Regions from separate parts of the Homo sapiens genome. Here region 2 is linked to region 1. The links come from fine-mapping of genetic effects on gene expression. A gene starts in region 1. The other region holds a variant in brackets. All regions are shown on one strand. Distances are between the middles of the regions.

Evidence for each region. PIP is the estimated chance that this variant, and not a neighbour inherited with it, causes the effect.
Region 2: its variant is fine-mapped to the expression of CLCA2 in spinal cord (GTEx, PIP above 0.99).

The regions. Positions count from the first base shown.
Region 1 is chr1:86,420,989-86,429,333 of GRCh38, reverse strand. It overlaps CLCA2 (chloride channel accessory 2), which reads right to left and starts at 5,163. Exons shown (of 14, transcript NM_006536.7): 1 at 4,901-5,163; 2 at 3,858-3,995; 3 at 766-916. The coding sequence starts at 5,086.
Region 2 is chr1:86,443,677-86,452,021 of GRCh38, reverse strand. CLCA2 (chloride channel accessory 2) reads right to left here. Exons shown (of 14, transcript NM_006536.7): 10 at 8,011-8,235; 11 at 4,244-4,514; 12 at 1,289-1,459. Among named protein-coding and RNA genes, the nearest start is that of CLCA1, 21 kb to the left of the region's middle. The variant G/A (reference allele first, on the strand shown) is at 4,440.

The DNA of each region.
Region 1 (8,345 bases):
TTCTCATCGCTTAGAGTTGCTAGAATTAAGTACGATAACATTTGAAAAGGAAACCACAGAGCGGCTAGCGCATAGGAAATCCTCAGTGTCCTTATTACTATCCTTCCCATCTCACTGTCTCCACCCATTTTTAAGTCTTGTGGCCTCATACCTCGACTTCTCCCAGTTATTCTCCTGATATCCAGTTTCTCCTTCATTGATCAGAGGAAGCCAGATTAATCTTAAAACACTGCTTTGATGGAGTCACTCCTGTGCTTAGAAACCTTGAGTGGTGACTTGAAAATGTGGCCATTTTAGTGCATCACCTGGCCCTCATGTATGTTTCAACGTTTTCTCCCACTGCCCACAGTCTCCCTGCACCATCATCAGGGTCTCTGTCTCTCCTATATGCCTTTAATTTTTCTGCTGCCACAGTTTTCTTCATAGTCTTCCCACTATTTTCTCCCTTCTTTCCATTTATCAAAATGATGTTCAATCTTGAAGACCTTTTCCTTTGTGAGGACATTTCTGACCACCCTTGACTCTAAATGACGTTTCCTTGATTGAATTCTTATAGCACTCCTCTCTGGGCCACTAATCTGGTGCTAAACTCTTTCGAGTTCACTTTAGCCCCTCATCTTTGCATGGGCATATGACCTATCTCCCCCTTTGAGTGGTAAGTCCTTGACAAGTTTCAGGTTTTGTGAGTGAGTCCCTTTCAGCACCAAGCACAGAATATTATAAGTAGTATTGTCCAATGGCTATTGTTTTATTGGTCCCACTTACCTCGTGATCCGTAGCCAGCTGTTAAGTTATCATTCAGTAGGAAATTAGGTGTGAAATGAATGTATTTTCCCTCTTTTCCACACCCTCTGTATTGTAGGGTGTATGGATCATCTCCATGTGCCCCATACCAGTCAGTCACTATGACATTTGCCTAAATTAAAAGAAATGCCTTGTAATACTTTCTCAGCTCTGTTGTTGGTGACATAAATGTATACATTCATTAAAGCACTTTGAACTGTACACTTAAGATGTGTGCATTTTATTGTATGTAATTATAACCCAATTTAAAAACAAAATTGAAGAAAAACACCTTGTGGATGGAGTTTAAAATGCACCCACAGCTACATATCAATAAAATCACTTGGGATTTCCAAAAAGGTCTATGTTATGAAAGCTTAGCAAATTTTTATGGAACCTAATTACTTCCATTTGATCTTTCCACATTCCAGATTAAAATATTCTCAAAAGTCAATCCTGTAAAAGTCTGATATAACAAAACACTATAAAATGCAATTAAAATATTTGAAGAAATTCTAAAAGCATTTATACATCGTTCAGAACCATTCAGAAGGCTGTAAAATGTTACAGCCTTTTGTGAACAACTTTCTGTGGGTTATTTTATTGGTGTAAGACAATAGAACATTATTTCTTTGAAAATTTGTCCTTTCTTTCCTGTAACCAATTAGATCAGCAAAACGATCATTCCAATGAAGTTATATTTCATCTTATGGCCTGACCATTTCCATTACTGTTGCTAAAACAGATTTTAAGTCCAAAACTGAAATATCCACTCATATAACTATCAAGACAAGAAAATGTTATATATAACATTGTTTCTTTTATTTTTGGGAAGAAAGATGACAGATTGTTCTGGATATGCACTTAAAAGTTAAATATGCTGTTAAGTTTTTTTAAAAGCTGATTTTAGAAAAATAGATCTAATACGATCCAATATACACAATTATCACTCTATGTACAATATGTATATGTGTTTTGTGTGTGTGTGTGTGTGTGTGTGTGTATGTATGTGTGTCCATCTGTGTCTGTGTGTGTGCCACTGAGAAGAAGAGGACAATACAATTTTTCATTTTTATTTTCCATGTTTCTACATTATTTAATTTTTTTCAATGAGTATAAATTACTTTTATAATAATTAACATTTATTTTTAGAAAGATAAGAATTCAAGCCAAGGTCATTACAAGGAAGTACCTACAAAAAAGGCTGAAGAGGTCACACTCTTGGATAGTCCTCACTTGGGTAAAACCTCATTCCTATGTCTGAAAATTTGTCCTGAGGCCAAAAGGAAAGAGTGCCCTTCATGGAATGGAATACTCAGAGGCTGTTTGGGGTTACTTTATACCTTATAGACCACAGTAATTCAGCTCTTATCTACTTTTCCTAACCCTTTCCCCCTTCCATGATTCCTACCTACATCTCATTGTAGACTTGGAAGGACAGGAACTACCTTGCTGGTCCTTGGGTTCTCTGAAGTGCCTAGCGTGGTCCCGTACATAATGATCATTCACTGTTTGCTTAATTGACATTCTGAGGTTAAAGAATTGGTATCCAACAGATAAATGAACAGCATCCAGGGACGATTGTTTCCTTTGGTCTTTCCGTTCACTCATATTTTCACTTTTGCTTTACTTATTTCTCTCCCCTCCATTAGGATCAAGTGTTACCTATGGCAACCTGGTTTTGGTGTTTGTTGTCTCCAATACTTCTTAGTTCTATTGAAGGCCCAATAGATGCATTAAATCTCTATTGACAGCTAGAGACAACAAAGCTTAGTGCAAAAAGCATGGGTTTTGGAGGCAAATAGACATTCAAATTATGGCTCTGTAATTTACTAGCTGTTAGATTTGGGACAAAGTCCATACCTTATTCAAGCCCCAGTGTTTTAATTTGTGATCACAGAAACTAATTTTAAGTTATGTGAGAATTAAATAATATATGTAAAATGCCTGGCACTTAGTTGGAGCTTAAACACTAACTCTTCCCAGCTTACCCCAGTTCCCCCACCTATCCTATCTTCATGTGCAAGCATTCTCAAATGCTTTCATCTGGTCATAGGTCAAATGCTTTTCACAGGCTCTTTAACTTCTTCAGGACATTGGGGTACCTATCTGGATTGCTATACCATTCAATTTCTGACAGAGTAGCTTTGAAGGAGAGCTAAGAATGAAACAGACTTAGGAAATTTCATACTGAGGGTCAGAAATAAGGAAAGGGGAAAGCTGTACCACATGTTTGAGTCATTCTGTTAGAGATGTAGTTACAATCTCAAACCCACTCCATTGCTGAAACCCTGAGATAAGTTGCCAATGCCTCTACTTCTGGCCCTTCTGGTAGCTGCAATGGACTCTTGTTCACAGTTGACTTCAAACAGTGATTTACCATTTATATTATTTATCATTTATTTATAGTGTGCACACTAGTATGTACCAGACATCATCATGGGTGCTTAATCATGATCTGCAACTTATGAGAGCCTTTCAAGGTGAAGTTCCTCTATAGGTGGAAAAAAAAAGGTAGCCATTCCCCTACTCATCCACATCCCCACATCCTTCCTCCCTTCCTTCTAATCTCCTTATTCCCCTAAAACAATATTCTGGACTTGAGCTAATGTGAAATTCTGATAATCTACACCATGGCATAAGATGGCAGTCATATTTTTATATGCATGGTGGTTTATATTTCTGTCTGGACATGCATGTTTATTGCTCCTGACAGGATGGTAAATGGGTATAGTCATAATTGGAACTGTTCCCTTTGCAGCTCATCCTCAGTAGGATAAAACTAGTTCTTGATCCTCAACCAAACTTTTCAGAAAGTACTCCATAAGTTACAAAATAAAGAGATCTTCTGAGAAACTACTTAGGCTATGGCATTTGACTCATTTTTTACTGCACAATTTGCATTCATTTATTCTCATATATTTTGTTGATAACATTCTGCCCATTAATATTATTTGCATTGTTAATACTGATGATTTGTTTTTACTTAACTTCTCACTTTTATCGTTTGAGCACAGTATATTTTGGTGTTTTTTTTCCCCTTGAGATCATTGAATGAAATCCTGGATTCTTACCTTTTCATATGATTCTTGTTTTATTTTGCTGTTATTATTAGCTTTCCATGTGGCAGGTATTAAAATCTTTATATTTCTGAAAAATACTCTTCTCTTGGTAGCATTAAATAGGTAAAATGAAGCTTCAGTTATCATTTCCTACAGCCAGACAAAAGAAAAACTTACTTTACCACTTGTAAATCCTGTATGTTTTGGTTTTCTGGTATGCTTAAACAGTAATAAAAGACAATGAAATATTTTGAAGAGACCCATTTCTTTTAGAGAAAGCCCTAGACTTTGGGAAAACATAGGAGCAAATTTTTAAAAAAACTTTAAATGATTATATGGAAGATTTTAGGACACTAATTATATGTCTGTGCTTGCCTTCATAGTTTTCCCAATTTTGAGAAAGGCTTTTAAGCTTTTGTGGAACAAATCCTTTTCATGTCACACCTGTGGGCACATTCAAGACCACACCTTATGATGCTACTGATTTCACTAAAGCAATACTAAATGGAGGCTCTTACATCATAGAGCTATGATCCTCCCTTGCCATATTAAAGTAAAAATAGTCAATTATGTTACAGCACATTCAAGTGAAAAGAAATAATTTTGCTTTTTGGCCCACCGTGCAGACTCTCACCCTTTCTGCCTGAGAATTCTCACCCTCAGGATGGAATCTAGCAATATGATTTTAACAAGCATGCTCATTATCATGCTTATTCATCAGTTAAATATTCAATCTTTGTTGCCACAATGGGTTGTTATTTTTCTAAGTTGCTACCCCAAAAACAGTCATGTAGGAAAACAAAAGAGCTGAAATTAGTAGCAACCAACAATAACAAAATAGAGGGCTAGATCAACACTCTGTGAGCTGAGACTACACAGAATTAGATGAACAAACTGGCTTAGTTAGCCATAATCATAACGTTGTGGCGCTATCTTTTAAAAATGCTGTTCTCTGTATTACTCAAATACAAACCAGGCAGGGTAGTTAGCTTCTAAATAAGGCTACAGGTCTGATCAAATGGGATGCTAGTATCAATTTCATAATTTCCACTCACCTTAATGTTTGAGATGAGGTTCTGATTCTCAGGTACCTGAGGATTAATTGCAATGAGCAATCCATTATACCCATTGTCTTGAAGCTGTACTCCAGCTCCCAGGAATGGGAGTTCTGAACTTAAGGCAACCAGGAGAGTCACAAACTTCAGGTTGCAAATAGGACCTGCAATGCTCCTTTGGGTCATGTTGTAGAGAAGCCTCCAGTTCACTCACACTGAGCCTGCTGCATACATTGTGTCAGGTTTTCAATATGGATGCAGATGGTTTCTTCCTGAACTTGCAAGGTTTTAGAACACAAGATGAAGGAGGTGTCTTCTTTGAAAAGTCTGGGGTGGATCCATCTGGGACCTGCCTCTACAAGTCCTTTTCCTCCAGGCAATGCTACACTTGCCTGTTCTGTGGCTGAGCTGCCTCCTGAATCATGGTTGGGCAAGAAACATTCTGCCCTTCATTCATTTTATAACTTTTCAGAAAGAAGAGGGAAATAAGACCAAAGGAGCTTAAAAGCAGGAAATATGGGCTGGAAATCAGTATATCTGGACTGTTCAATCCACTTGCAGTAGAAACACAGAAGTCTATAGTGATTTTCCTCTCCTCATTTTTCATAACCTCCTCCATCAGTTGGCACAAGTACTTTCTACTGCCCTCAAGTCATTTTTCATTTGTTGCAAGATTTCCTTGCCTGTTTATTTTGAAGATTTAGAAATCCATTCTGCAGCCCAGTCCCTACAGCCCTTGGGTCAGATAGTCTGGGCAAGCTCTCAGCTGATGGCTGGAGGTCAGATATCAGATATCCCCCAGAGAGGGCCAACTGCCAGGAACTTGGGTGCCTGTGCAGCCCTTTCCCTCTGGCCTTGCTACCTTTTCTCTCTGCCTCAGGAAGAAGAATAGATTTCTCCTTCAGCTCTCTCCTAAGGGCAAGGCCCTGCTTCAGTCAACCCTCCATTTCTCCAGGACCAAAAACAGGATCTAATATATAGTAACCATCGCAAATATTTTATGACTGATTCATAATACCTGATATTTACCTCATGCTTTAAAGTTTACAAATGAACTCATTTAAATATCAATACTCTGATGCAGGTATAATTTGTACTTTTCAAATGAAAATAATGAGTCTTGGAAATTCTGATTATGAAAATTAGCCAATGAGAGAAGAAACTAACATTTTTTGAGTGATGGATTTTATTATGCCTATTTTATGGGTGACAGAACTAATGTTCAAAAAAATCTAAGTAACTTGTTCAAGGTTGGGAGTATTATCATCGTACTAGAATGAACCAACTGACTCCAAATTCCACTGTTTTTCAATATATCATGTTCTCTCTTAGTTACTAAATTATCTTAGTAACCTCGTTTCTCCCTCTTCTTTGTGTTTAAGAATGCCGCACAGTGACATCTATTGTAAAACTAAAGAAAAAGTTTTATTCACAGCGTCAGAGGTCCACAGCAAGCAAAACCTGTGACTCTTCCCTGCTGTGGCCCCGTCTCGGAACATTTCTGGGGAGGGGAGTGTAGCATTTAGGAAACGGTCTGTCCCTGCTCTCAACAGGGATTTCACCAACATTGTCTGTTTTCAACATCTTCATGGGCAGTGTGATGTCACTCTTCTTCCCAGCAAGGTTGGAGTCTTCTGAACTTGGGCTTTGATATTGCACTGCAATGTTGACAGATGTTGAGGGAATTTTTTTCCCCTTGCTGTCTTGCTTGAATCATTTTCTCATGCTTCTTCTCACCTGCTTTTCCTTCAAATTCCAGCTGTGTCCTGGAAGCCTGGCCTGAGCTCCATAACTAAGTCAAATTCCCTTCTTTCATGCTTCCATAGCATCAGATAACTCACCTTTGCAGTATGATCATGGTAACAATGTCAAATTTATATTGTATAATTGATTGTCAGCTTCCTGCTGTATGAAGGAAGGGATGGAGTCTGTTTTCATTCAGTACTTCCCCAGCACCTATCTCAGTAAACTCTCTGTTGAATGACTGAATGAATGGAGTCAGGAGAAGTAAATAAAACAAGATAGTGAAGGAGCCCCGGGTTATAGTGTAAAAATTCTTTCCCCCACCCTTGTTTTCTAGAAGGCATCTCCTCTGTTCTAGAGCAGTTTCCCTCTTGCTCCCTCTTGACAGGCAGTGCTTGAGTATGGTGCTCTCCTTGAAGAATGGGATGGCGCTGGTCATTACGTGGCTGCCCAAGGGTCTTACCCTAAAGTTCAAAGGTCAGCTTAGCTGCCTTTTCTCCCAAACTGAATTCCCAGCCCTAGTTTTTTTCTGCTTGTTCACTGTGTCTTCAGAGTAGAAGGCCAGAGGTGTGGCAGCTCCAAAGGCTCTGTCTGTAAATGTGACTCATTGAGCAGAACAATGCACTTCATTTCAAATATCCCTGGCAGTTTATTTTCTTATGCCAACCTCTTGTGATTTTAAGAATACAAATATTCCCATCGATAAACCAATATGCTCAAAAACTAAACTCGTAAGCACACTGCAAGAGCGGCTTTTTGCCAACACTCAGGGAAGTTTTTCATGACACTTGTATAGGTTGTTTGCTATGGGAGGGAGTGATTGAGGACTGATATTCAGCACTCTCTCCACTTGTTTTTATCATTACTATGGTTCCCTTGGGATGTGAGGGTGGAAAATATTGGCTAGAGAGTGCATGCAACTTTATAAAGAACAGCTACAAATGAACAATTTTGTCCAGCTTCACTTGGGTTGAAACCTGAACAAGCTCACTCAGGCTTTGCTTAGCCCGGGTTGAGAGTCTAGGCATGATATCTACTCTTATCTATCTGATTTTTTTTAAACGTCTAATTCAGAGCCCTTTTTGTTATCAGCAACCAGGCCTGGGACCGGGCCAGCTGAAGGTCTCTTTTTACTGCCTTCTTCTTTCATCAGGCTGACCTTACAGCCTGAAAAGGTGGAGAAAATGAAATTGAGTAAAGGAATTAGAAATTATACTGAGCACAGCATCTTTTTGTGAAGTGTGACTTCGTCAATAAAGTGAACTTTTTATCCTTTCATTAAACAAAAATTAACTGGTCATAGCCATAGATTTTAGATTTTATAATATCTGAGAAAGGAAATATACCTAAAGGAAAAGAAAGGAGGAATACAGTTTTTAAGTGTTTATTTCAATGTTATATAAACTCTAGGAATCTGCTTTGCTTTTATTCTGCTTTCAAGAAAATAAGAGTTATTCAATTTCAGTAACTGAAGAATCTAAAGCACATCTTTGTTCATTGTCTGACTCTGTAGTTCAACCTGGCCCCAGAAGGGCCTGTCTATTTTTTTCATGGAGTCAGCTGGTATAGACCCACAGTCTAAGTGAATAAAACATCCAATTGGTGTCAGAGAAGTCAGGAGATTTGACATTTTGGGGAAATCAAAGAAAATTTTGGATTAGTTCCTCTCAGGCTTTGGTTTCAACAATCCCATTTAGAAGAG
Region 2 (8,345 bases), 23 kb before region 1:
TTTTAGCTAAATTTAATAATTTTAAAGTTATGAATTTGGAGGTTATACACAGATAGATGTTATTAAAGGCATATGGATTAATGAGATTAACTAATAATAATTATTACTATAATGATAAGTAGCACTTTTTGAGCACCTTCTATGTGCCAGGCACTTTTCTAAGGCCTTACATGTATCAGATATTTAATTTTCCCAACAAGGCTACGAAGAGGGTACAATTATTACCCTTATTTTTTTAGATGATGAAACTGAGACACACAGAAGCTAAGTCACTTGCCCAAAGTCACACAGCTAGTAAATGGAGGAGCTGGGTTTCAAAACCAGGCAATGTGGCTCCAGATGGTAAAGTAAGAAGGTTCAGACTCAGACAACATTTAGAGGCCTGGTAGAAAAGGAGGAGCTGGAAAAAGAGCCTGATAAAAAATTCCAGAAAATAGGAGGTAATCAGGAGAGTGAGGTATCATAGAAACCAGGAAATGGCAAAGGAGGGATCTTGGCTGTGTTTGATACTGGTGAGGTCAGGAAGAATGAGGACTGAAAAGTAAACAAAAAGTATAGAATCATGGTGTGGAATAGTCCAAATGATTAGTTATAACTTCTAAAATACATGAATAATATTTATAAAGAATCTGCATTTTTGGAAATAAAAATGCTTAGAAGTCTTTTTTGAGATTGTTTTCAAAGACTGTAGCATGATATATTTCTGTTGGTCTATTATGCTTTAACCACCGCTTCCTATCAGGAACTATTATAATGGTGTTAAAAAGATAACTATCTTCCATTTATTTTGAACTTTTTTCTTGAAGAAAAGCAAAACATCTTCAGGAATCACTTAGTTGCCTGTAACACCCAAGCTCATATTTATTTAGGAACTCATTTCCTGTGTGGACTGTTTGGGCTGTTGGCCTCCTTCTTTCAACTGCTAATAACTTTTTGCCTCTTTCTCTTGCCTAAACCTCTATAGAGGAAACACGGAAGCAGGAACTGAGAAAACCCAGTAAATCTCTTTATCTATTAGTAATTCTGATGAAACAAGAAAGAGGTCAACATAATGACTAAAATGAAGTTAGGTATAATCTGTGGGCATTACCTATCGCCTTCCTGTTACCCCCCTACCATGAATCACTGAGGATTGAAGAAACAGTCAACAAATTATGTATGGACTTAAGCGTAAAGAGTTTTGAAATTCTCTCTTTCTCTCACTCCCTGCCACCCCAGTACACACATACCCATCAGAGATATGTACATGAAATGATGTTACTCAAATAACAGTGCTAATGGTTCTTACCGTTTGCTGTGTAACCTGGTACATACATAGCATGACTCCCTGGAATAGAGTGGGCTGGGGTGCTTATGCTGGGAGAGTGATTGACATGCACTTTCAAGCTATATCTACCATTTGCAGCAAAGGAGAAAAAATACCTCGAGTAAATTCCATCATTTTTTATAACATCAGCACCTGTATATATAAAAAACACAGTGTCAACACTTGTTATTATAGTAGATTACTAATATTTAAGTCATTAAAAATGAGATTTACTCCCCTTATTCTTTCTATATAAGATATATTATCATGCTCTTATCTACTTTTTACATTCTCAGGTGATAAAAAATCCAATGGGTCCATAATTTCTCCCTGTAATTTCTTACCTCAGTAAAATGATTTTCTAAAGGTGAATAAGTTGTACCATGCTAATAAAACATTTAATCATCACCTTTAACATTCTTGTACTTATCATTGAAAATAATACTAGTTTTTTCTAGAAATCAAGCACATTCTTCAGGTTGCTTATAGTCATTGACCCTTTTGAGATATGAATAAAAGCTATTTTGTCCCTAGGAAATAAATATATATGCACATATACACATTTTCATACAGTTTCAAGGGTTTATGAATGCCTTGAAGTCACTTGATTAAGGACCTTTAATAAATAAAAACTTTGGTTAGTTTATAAAATAGTGTGAAATTACTTAATTTCCTCATTAGAGGGTATCTGGAACTGTTTTTCTAGATTCTAGGGGACTTGATGACCTGGAGTTTGACAGAATTTGGTAGCATCTACTGTGCCTTGCTTCAGGGGGCATTCTGAAAGGTTAGCCAGTGATGTACTTCCTTCTTTTTAAATTGATCTTCAGAGAGCAGTTCAATTCCAAGCCAAAATCATGACTCAATGGCAGGAAGGCCTAGACCCCAGGGCAGCAGAGGGAAGTCCAGCTTAGCCCAAGTATAGATCACTTTTGCCATTCAAGTACAGGTGGCCATAGTGGGCAAGCAGCTTGTCCTCTATCCTAGAGGTCAATTCAGTTTTCATACCACACACACAGCCCTGCATACCAGCAGTGTATCATTGCTAAAGTGTCCCCAGAATCTCCCTCTTCCCCACTGCAAAGGCAGGGCTCCTTAACATAAGAAAAGCAGGAGTATATTTAAATGAAATAAAAAGTGCTAAACATTTTATTATCAAGATAGATTTAGAACTCTTTTTTGTCTGTTGTAAGAAATCAAATCTTGGTATTTAGTGATTTAATGATTAATAAGGTTTATCTTTGTTGAGAAATTACAAAGGAAAATCTCTCCATATTAAAGTCACCACTGCCACCTCTTTTAATAACTGAGGCAGAAAGAAATGGGGAAAGAACATTGGCTTGGGAGACAGAGGAATTAATTTGAAGGCCTGCATCTGTCACTTAGTAGCTATGAGGCTTCATGTCTCTGAGCCTCAGTTTTCTCATCTATAAAATGGAGATAACTTATCTTGCAGGGTTGTTGTGATGATTATTTGAGAGTATGCATGAAAAAGTACATTTTAAATTGTAAATCATTTCAGAGGTATAAGTTTTATTACAGTTCATTTACTGAGCAAATAAATACTGCTTCCATTATAAAAGTATTAAACAACTATGTACATGCGTGTTAAGTATTGATTGGAGGGGAAACAATTTACATTTTGATGCCTGAGCAGTATTTTTTATTGTTCCTTTTTTTAGTGCATACATTTAGATATCAAACAAATAAAATAGTTCCAAGGAATAATATAAAAGCCAATTGAGCTGAATCAGACGATATTCCCTAGGGGAGTAGGCTCTGTTCTCCAGGCTGGCCCACAGGGTGGGGCAAGAGAGAAACATTCTGCAAAAGTACATTTTTGGACCATAAACAAAAAATGAAAGGTGCAACCATGGATAAGCCATCAGAGCATGAGAAGTTCATTTGGATCCAATCCAACAGGCAAAACAAGAAGACTTCTCTGGTATCCCCCAGTGGTGGACTTGAACCAAAACCCTTTGAATGAACTTTTGTTTTCCTGCACATCATACATGATTGCCATGGCAAGATACTGATGGGCTACCAAACTTAAGACTCTTGAAAAAAGATTAACTTTGAAACAACAGGGCAAAAGAATATAATTTTGTTAGCAGATCAAACACTTCGGGCTGCCAAGAGGCAGGTCTACTGCCATTCTAAGAATGTAATTTAGGAAAATAACCAAATAGGAAAGATGGAACAACAAAGGAATTTGTTTTTCAAAGGATCCCAAGTGCTGCTGTTTACCTGGCTGGATGCTATACCATCTATAATGTATGATGACGAGGCTCTGAATGCTGTATGTGCAGAATGAGAACTTTTCTCTATTCTGATTCCACTAGGCTTGCAGGCTGGGTCTTCTTGGGACCAAATTACACACGTAAAAGGCATTGGCTGTGCTAGAACTGAGCTGTGCCCTCTCTTCAACCCAGCCTCTTGGGTCTAGGGTCATCTTATAGGTCACAAGTTCAGTTTCCAATTTTTTCTTCATAACTGGGGTCCAAAGGGAAAAAGTGGGTTCGCTGTCACTGCACCTCCCTTCTGATTTTCATTTGCTATTTTAACAGTCCAATCTGATTACTTCAGTGAATAATAAAGCTAGTGACTCTTAGAGGAATATAAGTATGTCATAAGGACATAGAAGCCTGCTCCTGTATGACCTCAGCAAGTGGAAGCCAGGACCAAGGTGTCCAGCGGCTGCCTCCCACCCTTTGCTCAAACATAGACACTATGAGGAGTCTCACAAGGACTCTCTTTTTCCATGTTAACCTGTAGCTATTCAGTATATCAGTGACTCTATAAGAATTTGAGAATATTGTAAGATTAAAAAAAAATTGAACTCAAGGAATCTTACAGATAAGCTTAATATTGATACTACCGCATCATATCACAACAGCTGTTGAGAAGATGATAAAATGTCATGACATTCCTTGTTACCTGCTCCATCATCAAGGAGTCTCAGCGTAACAGGATCTCCAGTCTCTGGCTCAACTGTGGCAGTGACAGTGGCATTAAGAATGGGATAAAATCCCTGTTTCACATTGGCATAAATCATCACAGGATGAGGAAAATGGAGGCTGTCTCTTTCCACAAAGGCTTCCACAGTGGCTGGGGGCACAGCTGAGTTGGAGGC[G/A]CGAGAGGTCACTGTCACTTTCAGGGCTTGCAGAGAATGATGGGTATTGTTCAGGGTGTAAGTCCAGTGCCCAGGCTGTAAAACAAGTCTTATTGTTTTGGAAAGTGTGAAAAAAAAATCAACCCTAATTTTAAAGCATACATCAAAACTTCTGGAGAATTTTGCTCTTGTTTTGTTGATGTTGCACTTTTTAAAATACTACAAAAAGATGCCAGGAAAAGTAGCATTGGTTAAGGGATGAATAAATTTGTATTTACATGGCTTTCATAGCATAAGTCACCTTTATTTCTAGATAATTCTTTAGGGAATTACACCTCGAATTTATTTGGAGTGAGGGAGGATACATCTTGATTCCCATTTTTAGAACATAACAATAATAGTGTCCAGCTTCAAAGTACTTTACAGATATTAATCTGAGCCCCTTCCCCAAAAAGGCGTTTAAATGTTTTTCATTTCTTTTCATAACTGAGAAAATTACATCAAATTAATTGGACCATTATAATTTATGTGGACACCGTGGACTAAAAAGGCAACAACATCCTTCTTTCACTCCACTTCCCAAAAACTCCACACTCAGAAATCTCAATCAACAAAAAACACATACACTACTAGGGACCAAGAAAAGGACCTACTATTTTTAATAGGTCAGGATTATACAATATCTAATTTGGGTAATTTATAGAAATACTGCTAAACACTACTCTTGCCTATCTGCCTGGGAAAAACCTACAAAAGAAAATCTGAAAGAAAAAGACTAAAATTACAATATAGCAGAAATTCGTCCTTTTGATTAAGCTATACATATATTGCTTTTCCCTGACTTCTGCTGCTGCTCCTTATCAAACCCCCAGAAGTAACAAGTGAAACACAACAAAGCAGAAGGAAGAACAGAAAAGCAAGGGGTTGAAGCGTAACTCAGGGTGGAGAGTTCAGATGCACCACACCCTAGCCATCTTTCTTCATTGGGATTCATGAGCTTCACTATTTTCCATTAAGTTATGATTCAAGGACTATGTTTTTTTGTTTTTGTTTTTTGAATCATAACATTAGTGACAGATGCATGGCAGGAACTTCCACATCAAAAAGTTCTCTGAGTGTAATAAATGTTTTGATACAGGGCATCTAATCCAGACCAAGAGGTCAGGCAAGGGGAGCAAGAAGTAGGTAAAGTGTCCCTGGCCCTTATACACAGGTGTGAAAAGAACATGATGAATTTGGAGAAAAGTTCAATAGGAGCAGAGCATCGAAGAAGTTAAGAGAGAAGCTTGGGTAGAAGCCAAAACATGAAGGGTCTGGTATGTAAGATTTACCACTTGGGCCTGGTGACAGAGCGAGACTCCATCAAAAAAAAAAAAAAAAAAAAAAAGTTCCCACAGCTCACCACTACAGAAGCAGAGAAGACAACTATGCAGAAAACAGAGTTGGTGGCAGTCAGGAGGAATGCAGCTGGTCTGTTGGACCCCTACTGGATTGGGGGAGTGCAGAAGACACTGGTGAAATCCTCTATACTGAAGACCTGCAGTTGGGAGCAGGGGGAGTCCATGGGTCTGCTGATTTTTTTTCCCTATTTAGTACTAATGTGTGTGTGATCTTTGTTTTACAAAATACCTTTTGGGTTTTCTGCATATTTTAAAATTTTTGTACAGTTTTGAATTCTATAGATCGTCTTGGAAGGATACTGTGTGATGAGCCAGGCACACAGTAATTGGAGACTTTTAATGTGTGTAATATTTCATAGATTGCATGCTATTAATCGTCTGTGAGGGTAGTATTTTTTGTTTTATTATAAGTTTCCCTCATTTTTTTATAAATTAAAAGATGGTTGGTATTAGGAATTTCAAATGAATGCAGAAAATCTTACATGCTCTGTACTATTAATATTATAACAAAGACGATCCAAGTCCAAAATCTGACCAATAAAGCAACCATTTTATCAAGATAGAGGATTCTACCATGGGAGAGGGGATTCTTCCCTCCTGAAGTTTGTGTGTCCAATCCCCTTAAAAAAAATGAATAGTTGTCTTTTCTTGTCATATTAATACTCGAAAGTCCATGGTGATATTAATGAAAGTACACTTTATTGTTGCCTTTGACCTTATGGCCAAGGCAATAAATCAGAAACAAAAATAGTGCCAATGTGTCAAAATCTACAACTGAGAGATTCAGCCTCCCATCTGGAATAAATGCGAATCTTCTAAGCTAAAAAAAAAAAAAAAAAAAAAAAAAGGTTAACACTTGGATTTTATTCTGAAACCACCAAGGAGGTTTTGAACAAAAGACAGACTGATTTGTGCTTCAGAAGGATCGCTTTTATAGAGGTAAAGAATGGACTGGAGGGATGGCAGTTCAGAGTCAAGAAGGCTAGTTAAGGGGCTGTCAAGAAGGTGGTGGGAGCGGTGGCTCATGCCTGCAATCCCAGCACTTCAGGAGGCAGAGGCAGGCAGATCACTTGAGGTCAGGAGTTTGAGAACAGCCTGGCCAACATGGTGAAACCTCATCTCTACCAAAAAATACAAAAATTAGCCAGGCATGGTGGCAAGTGCCTGTAGTCCCAGCTACTCGGGAGGCTGAGGCAGGAGAATCGCTTGAACCTGGGAGGTGAAGGTTGCAGTGAGCTGAGATGGTGCCACTGCACTCCCGCCTGGGTGACAGAGCGAGACTCCATCTCAACAACAACAACAACAACAACAACAACAACAACAAAAGTGGGGGTGGGGCAGCATGTGAGGAGGCACTGAATTCAGGCAGTGCAAGAGTGAATCTGATCAACTTACAGTTCTCCTTAGAACCATCAGTGGTTCCCTTTCACTTTCAGGATTCAAGCCCCTGTTCACTTTACTGTTGTGCAAAGCCCTTGCTAATACAGCTCCTGTTTACCTGTCTAGCCTCACTACTCCCCTCTCCTTCCTTTGCCTACATCCCTAACTTATAGATTACCCTACTCTATTGAACTACTCTAGTTCTATGAACAGCCATGTTCTTTTTATCTGAGTCTTTCTATATGCTGTTTCCTCTGCCCACAATATCATACCCACCTCTGGCCTGTTATTCCTTATATTTCCATTTTGATGTCTTTGCTTCCAGGAAGCATTCTTCCTTCCACCCTCTTGTATGTTCTGATAGTACCCTGTTCATGCTCTTACCATGGCATTTTATTGTAAAGTACCTGGAACAAAACCCAGCACACCCAGTAGATGCTAAAAACCACATGCATTGCATGTATTCATATTATAAATTCTAAGTAGAGATTTTTTTCTAAGCATATAGAAAAGTGTGTTTGTATGGATTATGTAAAGAAATATGTAGGCTAGAAAAACATTAATTGTAATACTAGTGGAAATACTAATTTTCAGTGTTGAAGTATTTGGTGTCTAATATATAAAACTGGGAATATACCTTAGTTATTCCTCTTAAATTTTTAATATTCACAAAATGGCCTCATAAATTTAAAGTAAACTTTTGATATATTAAAACAAGATTTTCTTTACACAATGCATTTAATCATGTGATTCAGCTGAAAATCATAAACTTGGTTGAACGTTGTCCTTAGGAACAAACTCACAACACCTACCTTAGCTGTTCCTGGAATCCAAAGACTAGCTGTCCGAAAAGTTAGATTGGTGATAAAATTATTTGTGTAGTATTTTCGTCCATCAGGATCAAATAATATAATCTCAGGAGGACCACTGGCCTGCCACGTAACTAGAAACATAGTGTCGTTGCCCACAGTATTATCCACAGTCACTGTGTTTTTCAATTGATGGTGAGGTTTGACATTTTCACCTGTACTTTCAAGCTGTTAAAGAGAAGATATATATGAGAGTTTCTGGTGTATGCATAATCATTCCATCTTTTTCTTTTTTAACAAACAACAATTAATTGGCAAAAATAAAAATAATTTAATTC